2 linked regions of the Homo sapiens genome follow. The protein of the gene in region 2 interacts with the protein of the main gene of each other region in a biochemical or structural test. Each region holds a gene or a part of one and is shown on either strand. Other genes may lie near its edges.

The links.
Region 1: the proteins of CNTNAP4 (region 2) and GIPC2 interact in a test that uses a peptide from one of them, tested with the Homo sapiens proteins (one large-scale study listed by IntAct).

Annotation. Positions count from the first base shown.
Region 1 is NC_000001.11:78,135,955-78,138,944, reverse strand, and holds the end of GIPC2 (PDZ domain-containing protein GIPC2), read right to left. Parts: 3' UTR 501-2,990; downstream 1-500.
Region 2 is NC_000016.10:76,535,642-76,539,599, forward strand, and holds part of CNTNAP4 (contactin-associated protein-like 4 isoform 1 precursor), read left to right. Parts: coding exon 1-143; intron 144-2,474; coding exon 2,475-2,699; intron 2,700-3,958. UniProt on the Homo sapiens protein: Presynaptic protein involved in both dopaminergic synaptic transmission and GABAergic system, thereby participating in the structural maturation of inhibitory interneuron synapses.

The DNA of each region.
Region 1 (2,990 bases), on a different chromosome or scaffold from region 2:
CCATTTTGCTACTACGTTAGACAGGCAATAATTGAAGGAGACCAGGGAGTCTCTAGAAGTGATAAAGGTCTAGCAATAAATAACATGGGACTGGCCTGGTGCAGTGGCTCGTGCTTGTAATCCCTTTGGGAGGCCAAGGCGGGAAGACTTCTTGAGCCCAAGAGTTTGAAACCAGCCTGGGCAACATGGCAAAACCCCATCTCTACAAAAGTACAAAAATTAGCTGGACATGGTGGTGCACATCTATAGTCCCAGCTCTTGAGAGGCTGAGGTGGGAGGATCACATGAGCCTGGGTAGGTCAAGGCTGCAGTGAGCCATGATCAAACCCCTGCACTCCCACTTGGGCAACAGAGTGAGACCCTGTCAATAATAAACAAATAAATAACATGGGACTAAATAAAGTTTTACTTGGAATATGTGTACCCCTGCACTCCCACTTGGGCAACAGAGTGAGACCCTGTCAATAATAAACAAATAAATAACATGGGACTAAATAAAGTTTTACTTGGAATATGTGTATTTGCTAAAGTTGCAAGGGAAAATATTGCAAATTATACATCATTTGAAAAATTATCTCTCTTTAGTTAATTTTCAGTCACAATATTGGATGTAGCAGCTCCAAATAGAGGTTACCTGATTATTGCTTTTATAATTGAATTCTTAAAGAGTTTACATCATAATTATATAATTGTATTTTTGAAACATCACAGAAACCCAACATGTACCTATTTGTAATCATCAGAGTATATACATCTGATTAGGACTCAGCTATGTTCAAGGCCTCATCGAGCCCAACATACAATTATCATTTGCATTTTCTGCTACAATCAAAGAAAACGCATTGTGTGCTATTAGTGGCCATTGCAAGAAGGAAGATGCTGTTTTCAATAACAGGAAATCAAGAACAAACAAAATAATCATCTTCCATTTAAAAAAAAAAAGCCTACAGAAAAGTGAAAAGGACAGGGTCCTAAAAACATCTAGTGATGCCAATAAAATGGAATGTTTTTTAAAAAGTGATTTGTCTCACTGAAGCTGCAGAAGGGTATCCCACACTTATATATTATGTGACTGCACTAAAAACAGACGCTTTTGGTGCACTGAGCGTTACAAAAAGGCAGAAAGCTCACAAATAGATGCAATTTTAGGTATGGGAATAAAATGACATAAAGAAACTGACCTTGTTATCAGTTTAGCTGTAGAGGTGAAAGATAAGGATATTTCAAGGAAAAACCTATTACAGGCAGTATATAGAGTACTTGGGCCCAGTTGAAGCCCAGGTAATGTGATGATAGTAATGATAATGGTCCACTGAATGCTAACAGACAAGTATATATAGTTACAGCTGTACATGGATATCACAACCTTACACACAAATTCTAGAAAGATCATTGTGAAAATGACATTCCATAAATCACATGGAATCAGCACCAAGTGTGTCTTTATGCATGCCCAAAAAGGAAGGAGAAACTGACAACCATCAATAATGAACAATGACTTATTTCAAATCTAATATCTAGTGCTGATAAATTTATTTTGTTGTTGTTGTTTAAACGAGAATGTTTCTATGGGCCTCCTAAGTCATCTTATGCCTAAAAATAACAGCTCTTTTTTTGTGTCTTTCCAAGAGAGGTAATATTAAGAATTAATAGGTATTTCAGAACCTCCAAAACGAACTCACTAAACGAGTACCAACAAGTTACAACCTGAGCTGGATTTTATTTTCAAATGATAAGCAACAGCAATAAGGCAGTCCATATTCTATAAGCTACTTTTGTTACACATTAATGACTAAAACAGCTTCTGTGCAGATTTCAAATTAATCGGACAAAGAATATCAGCTTTATGGCATTAAACTCATTTGAAAAAGGAGTGGATGGCAATACAACTAAAGTTTTACCAGAAAACAAGAGTTATCTAAGCAATAATCCAGCAAGAAAAGAGAACTACTTCTGATTTCCTAGAATACATCCCTAACAGGTTATTATTTCTGATTACCATGGCAGCACACAGCATTTTCCATCTAACACTTTACAAAGATGCTTGGTCATGCCATGCTCTGCTGTATTAAATGATCTTTGTTGAAACCATTCATTTCCATTTCTCTTACACCTACGAAATGTCAAATAAGAGTGATAAGACAGTCATTTACTCTCAATTTTCTCTTTAATTTAGAGTGTATTAGAACTCTAAAATAATAGACTAATATATTTTCTCAATTCTCCCTTCCTCCTTTCTTTCCACTGGAAGGAAATCTATTTCTGATAGCATTTCTTCTAAAGTTTAGGGAACTAAAAAGTGCTGCTGTTTAACCAAAAAAAAAAAAAAAAAAAAAGTTCTAAAGCATAGTTATTTTGAGTAAATATCTTTCCAAAAACTCTACAAAAAAATATAAAATCTTCCCTGGAGTGCTTATAAAAGGTAACATAAAAGTGGCTATGAGTGAAAAAAAGAAATAATGTTTTAAGGACTGAAAAAAAAATCAAATGCAAGTAGTTCTACCCTACCCATCTCTTTTTTACCCTTCTTTTACACATGCAGAGACACACACACACAGCACAGATTTCAACCACAAGTTTTAAGAGCATGTATAAAGAAGCATACAAGAAAATCAATCAATCTTTGTTTTACAAAGAGAGAAAGTTGGCCATAGAAATCAACATGCCACAGGAATCTTCCTTCCCTTACTCAGAGGATCAAAAAAAAACCAATGCTTCTAGACCAATAAGGGGCATAATTCACCTTTCATTTCCTGAACATATCCTGTTCAAACTAGGATAACACAGTGAAGATACTATGAGGTAAATCATACTCCAATCCTAGTTTACATTAAGATTTTGAAAAAAAACTACAAAGCTATTGAAATCATCTATTTATATGTGAAAAACAAAGCATGGGTATTAATGGAGAAGAAAATCATCTGTCGAGAAATACTCCTTAAAACTTACTTTTAAAAACCTTTTGAATGAATATTACAATTGATCCTTAT
Region 2 (3,958 bases):
TCCAGAAGTGCAGCCAGGTTGTAGGGGACATTGCAGCAGCTATGGGAAGTTATGCCGCAATGGAGGGAAATGCAGAGAAAGACCCATTGGGTTCTTTTGTGACTGCACTTTCTCTGCATACACAGGGCCATTCTGCTCAAATGGTAAGTGTGGCATGGAAGACTGTAAGAGGAAAATTTATTCAATGTGGATTAAATGTCTGGCAGTTCTTTTCTATGCAGCTATTTGAAACAAAAAAAATTCAATTTCTGAATTGCTTTGGCAAAGTATCTGTTGAATGTAAAGAATGAGTACAAGATCCTGGTGATGAGACAGCATCATATATTCAAAGATGGAGCGCATCATATTTCATTACTTAAATATTTGACTCATTTATGAAAAACTAGTGTTTGTTGATGGTAAATCCATTAATAGTCACCTTTATGTATTATAAAGTGTTAGTTGCTCAATCTGCTTTTTTCTACCTAGTGTTGATGCTCTTAAATAATATGGCTGTCAGCAACCTGCCCCATGGGGCAATTCTTTATTTTAAAATCATTTAAAGCATTACTTTTTTTTTTATTTGAGACTGAGTCTTACTCTGTCACTCTGTCACCCAGGCTGGAGTGCAGTGGCGCAATCTCGGCTCACTGCAACCTCCACCTCCCAGGTTCAAGCGATTCTCCTGCCTCCGCCTCCCGAGTAGCTGGGCTTACAGGAGCCCACCACTATGCCCAGCTAATTGTTGTATTTTTAGTAGAGATAGTGTTTCACCATGTTGCCCAGGCTGGTCTCAAGTTCCCGACCTCAAGTAATCCACCCACCTGAGCCTCCCAAAGTGCTGGGATTACAGACGTGAGTCCCCATGCCCGGCCCTGTTACTATTGTATTTGTTGAAGATATTCAACAATGCAAGGATATTTAAGATGCATTGTTTTTTATTTGAGTTTTTCAGACATAGTTTTTCCAGAAATATAAACAATATACCATTAAATATCGATGCATTACAAAAATAGACACATTTATACATTAATCATACATTTTATTGTATGATATGTTGAATATCTGCTGGTGAAATAAAATAGTAGAATACTTTTCAGCTTCTCTCATTATCTGATATGCCTCATGGAAGAAGAAAAGAACAGTTGTAGGATTAAGTGTTCTGGACAGACTTCCATGAATATACAAACATTTATTACTCTTTCATAGTTCCTCATAGAAGACTGACATCCAATTTAAATTCATTTACTTTATTTAAAGTGTCTCTTGGCTATTGAACCTTTTCCTGAAGGAGGCTAACAAAACTTGGCTCCAGATTAAAACAACTCCTGACTTACAAAGAAAGCATGGGATGAGTTAATAAAAAGATGGCCAAATGCTCTTTTCAAGTCATCTGCTTTTCTCAGGAATAATCTATAATTTACAAATCAACTTGTGATCATAATCATATACTGCTGGTACCATTCTAGGACACTTTTCATGTTTAAAGTGATCATTAAGACCACTTCATTAAAATAACATGTCTTTGTTTTCTGGATATAAATAATTTCCAGTTCATCTTGCTAAGTGCAACCGTAAATGTTACTCTGTATGCACATATTATATTGAATATAAAATGCGTGTTATAGATAATAAAATAATGAAACAATTAAAAACTCTAAGATGTCAAGGGAGCCTAAACATTACTGTATGATCCAGTAAGTATCATCTACAACTTGTATTCAATAACCAGTCCTTTTTCAGTAATGGAGAGAAGCAGATTCAGGGATTTAAAACTAGTTATTTCTTCTGCCATCTTCTTCATTTTCATACATATGTATTTGGTGTGTGTGTGTGAGAGAGAGAGAGAGGAAGACAGAGAGAATTTGGGATATTAATCTCATACCAGGAAAATACTACACTTTTGTAAAATGATTTAAAAGAGGTTGGTTAGTTCTGTTTGTTGATCCTGTTTCCCTGTATCATGTTAATACTAGACTTAGCTTTCTTTTTATAGTACACAATAACTATGAGAAAATGTTTAGACATAAAGGAAAATTTCTGCCTCTTGATCCTGGGAAAGAAGAGAGTCTCTCAAACATCCTTCCTTCCTAACTATTTTGTAGATAGGAGGCCCTAGACTTCCTTTAAGATACACTTCATTTAAGATTGTACTATCTGCAATATAACAGATGGGAGTTAAAATTTAAATAAAAAAGTAGATGATCAAGGAGATAGAAGACAAGCCTGGTTTGTGTTTGAACTCAGATAAGAAAGCATTTAACTTTCAACTGTAAAATTATACTAGTGCATTAATTATATGTCATTTTAACAGAAAGCCATTTCAAAGATCATTTTGAAAGCTCTATTAACTTACTTTATTATTTGATTCTATTTTGGGGTTGGTTCTTCTATCTATGCAATTCATTAAAGAAACTAAAATATAATTATTGTAACTAAAACAAAATCCTTGTACTTAAAATTTTTAACAAAAATATATATATATATTATTTCAGAGATTTCTGCATATTTTGGATCTGGCTCATCCGTGATATACAATTTTCAAGAAAATTATCTTTTAAGTAAAAACTCCAGCTCCCACGCTGCTTCATTTCATGGTGATATGAAGCTGAGCAGAGAAATGATCAAATTTAGTTTCCGAACAACACGAACACCAAGCTTGCTGCTTTTTGTGAGCTCCTTTTACAAAGAATACCTTTCTGTGATCATTGCCAAAAATGGTGAGTTCTTTTTAGATGAGAGAGAGAAAATTAAATTAGAACACTAGCTCTGTAATAATATGGATCATTCTCGTGTTCTGGCTTCTCAAGCTACAAACAGAAAAATGGAGTGTGCCTGTTTTTTGTAGTCATATTTTTAGTACTATCCTATAAGTATAATCTAAAAGGATTATTTAAAATGATTAAGATGCCCTTATCTCTTTATGATTTTGATAATTTTACATATTCAATGTATAATTTTATTTATATAAAACATTTATTATATTATTGTTAGAAGCTCCTTGACTATTCCATATGGCTATCAATATTTGTTTCATAGTTCATTTTGAAATAAGGTGTCTTGTTGTATGTAACTATTTCCTGCAAATCAAAGTAAAGAAACATTAAGGGAGTGTTAATAAACCAGCATTTTGAGTAAGAATATGTCCACAAGATGACCTTTTAGTTGTACTTTTAGTTAAAAAAATCATCATGGGAAAAAAATGTTATATCCATGCAGTGTTAAGGGAATGTAGATTAGGAAATGTGTTTCCTACAGAAAACCATTTACTGCTATTTTTCTCTTTCCCACATCTAGATTAAAGGTAAAAATTTTGGAAATAACTTCTCTGGATAAGAAAAGCAAACATACAAACATGTGACTATATCATTTCAACTGATTCAAATATATCCCAAGGGTACTGTACTGAACACCAAAATAAAAATAAGATTGTTCGATAAGTGTATTTATTCTTACTGTGCATTTTGAGCTTGAAGCTTATTTATATATTAGGGCATTTTCTTTGTCAAATTGAAAGATATCCTGTGAAATAAATTAACTGACATCTCTGCAGGCAATTAAATGAGTAGTACTAATTGTGATGGTAAATTTGGCTTAAAATCATTCATCTTACCATTATTTCATTTCAAAGTCTATGACCATGACTACTTGGACATATTTCTTCTCTTTAGTAAAACTACATTTGTGTTTAATAATTTCATTAATTGTTGTATTTCCAGAGTGTGAGATATATTTTTTAAATATAGGAACAGAATATTATTGCAATATTAAGCAATAGGTTGGCATTTCAGAAATACTTAATATTATTTTTTAAGTGAGAGGCAAGTGCAGAGATTTGCATATGCTTAATCTGAGTTGATGTTAAATTAAAAGATTTGCAGGAAAGAGAGTGCTTGTGTGCAACATACTTGGTCATGATTTTGCAAATACATTATTGCAATTTCACTTGGAAACTGACTCTTGGGGATTATAAAAAGGT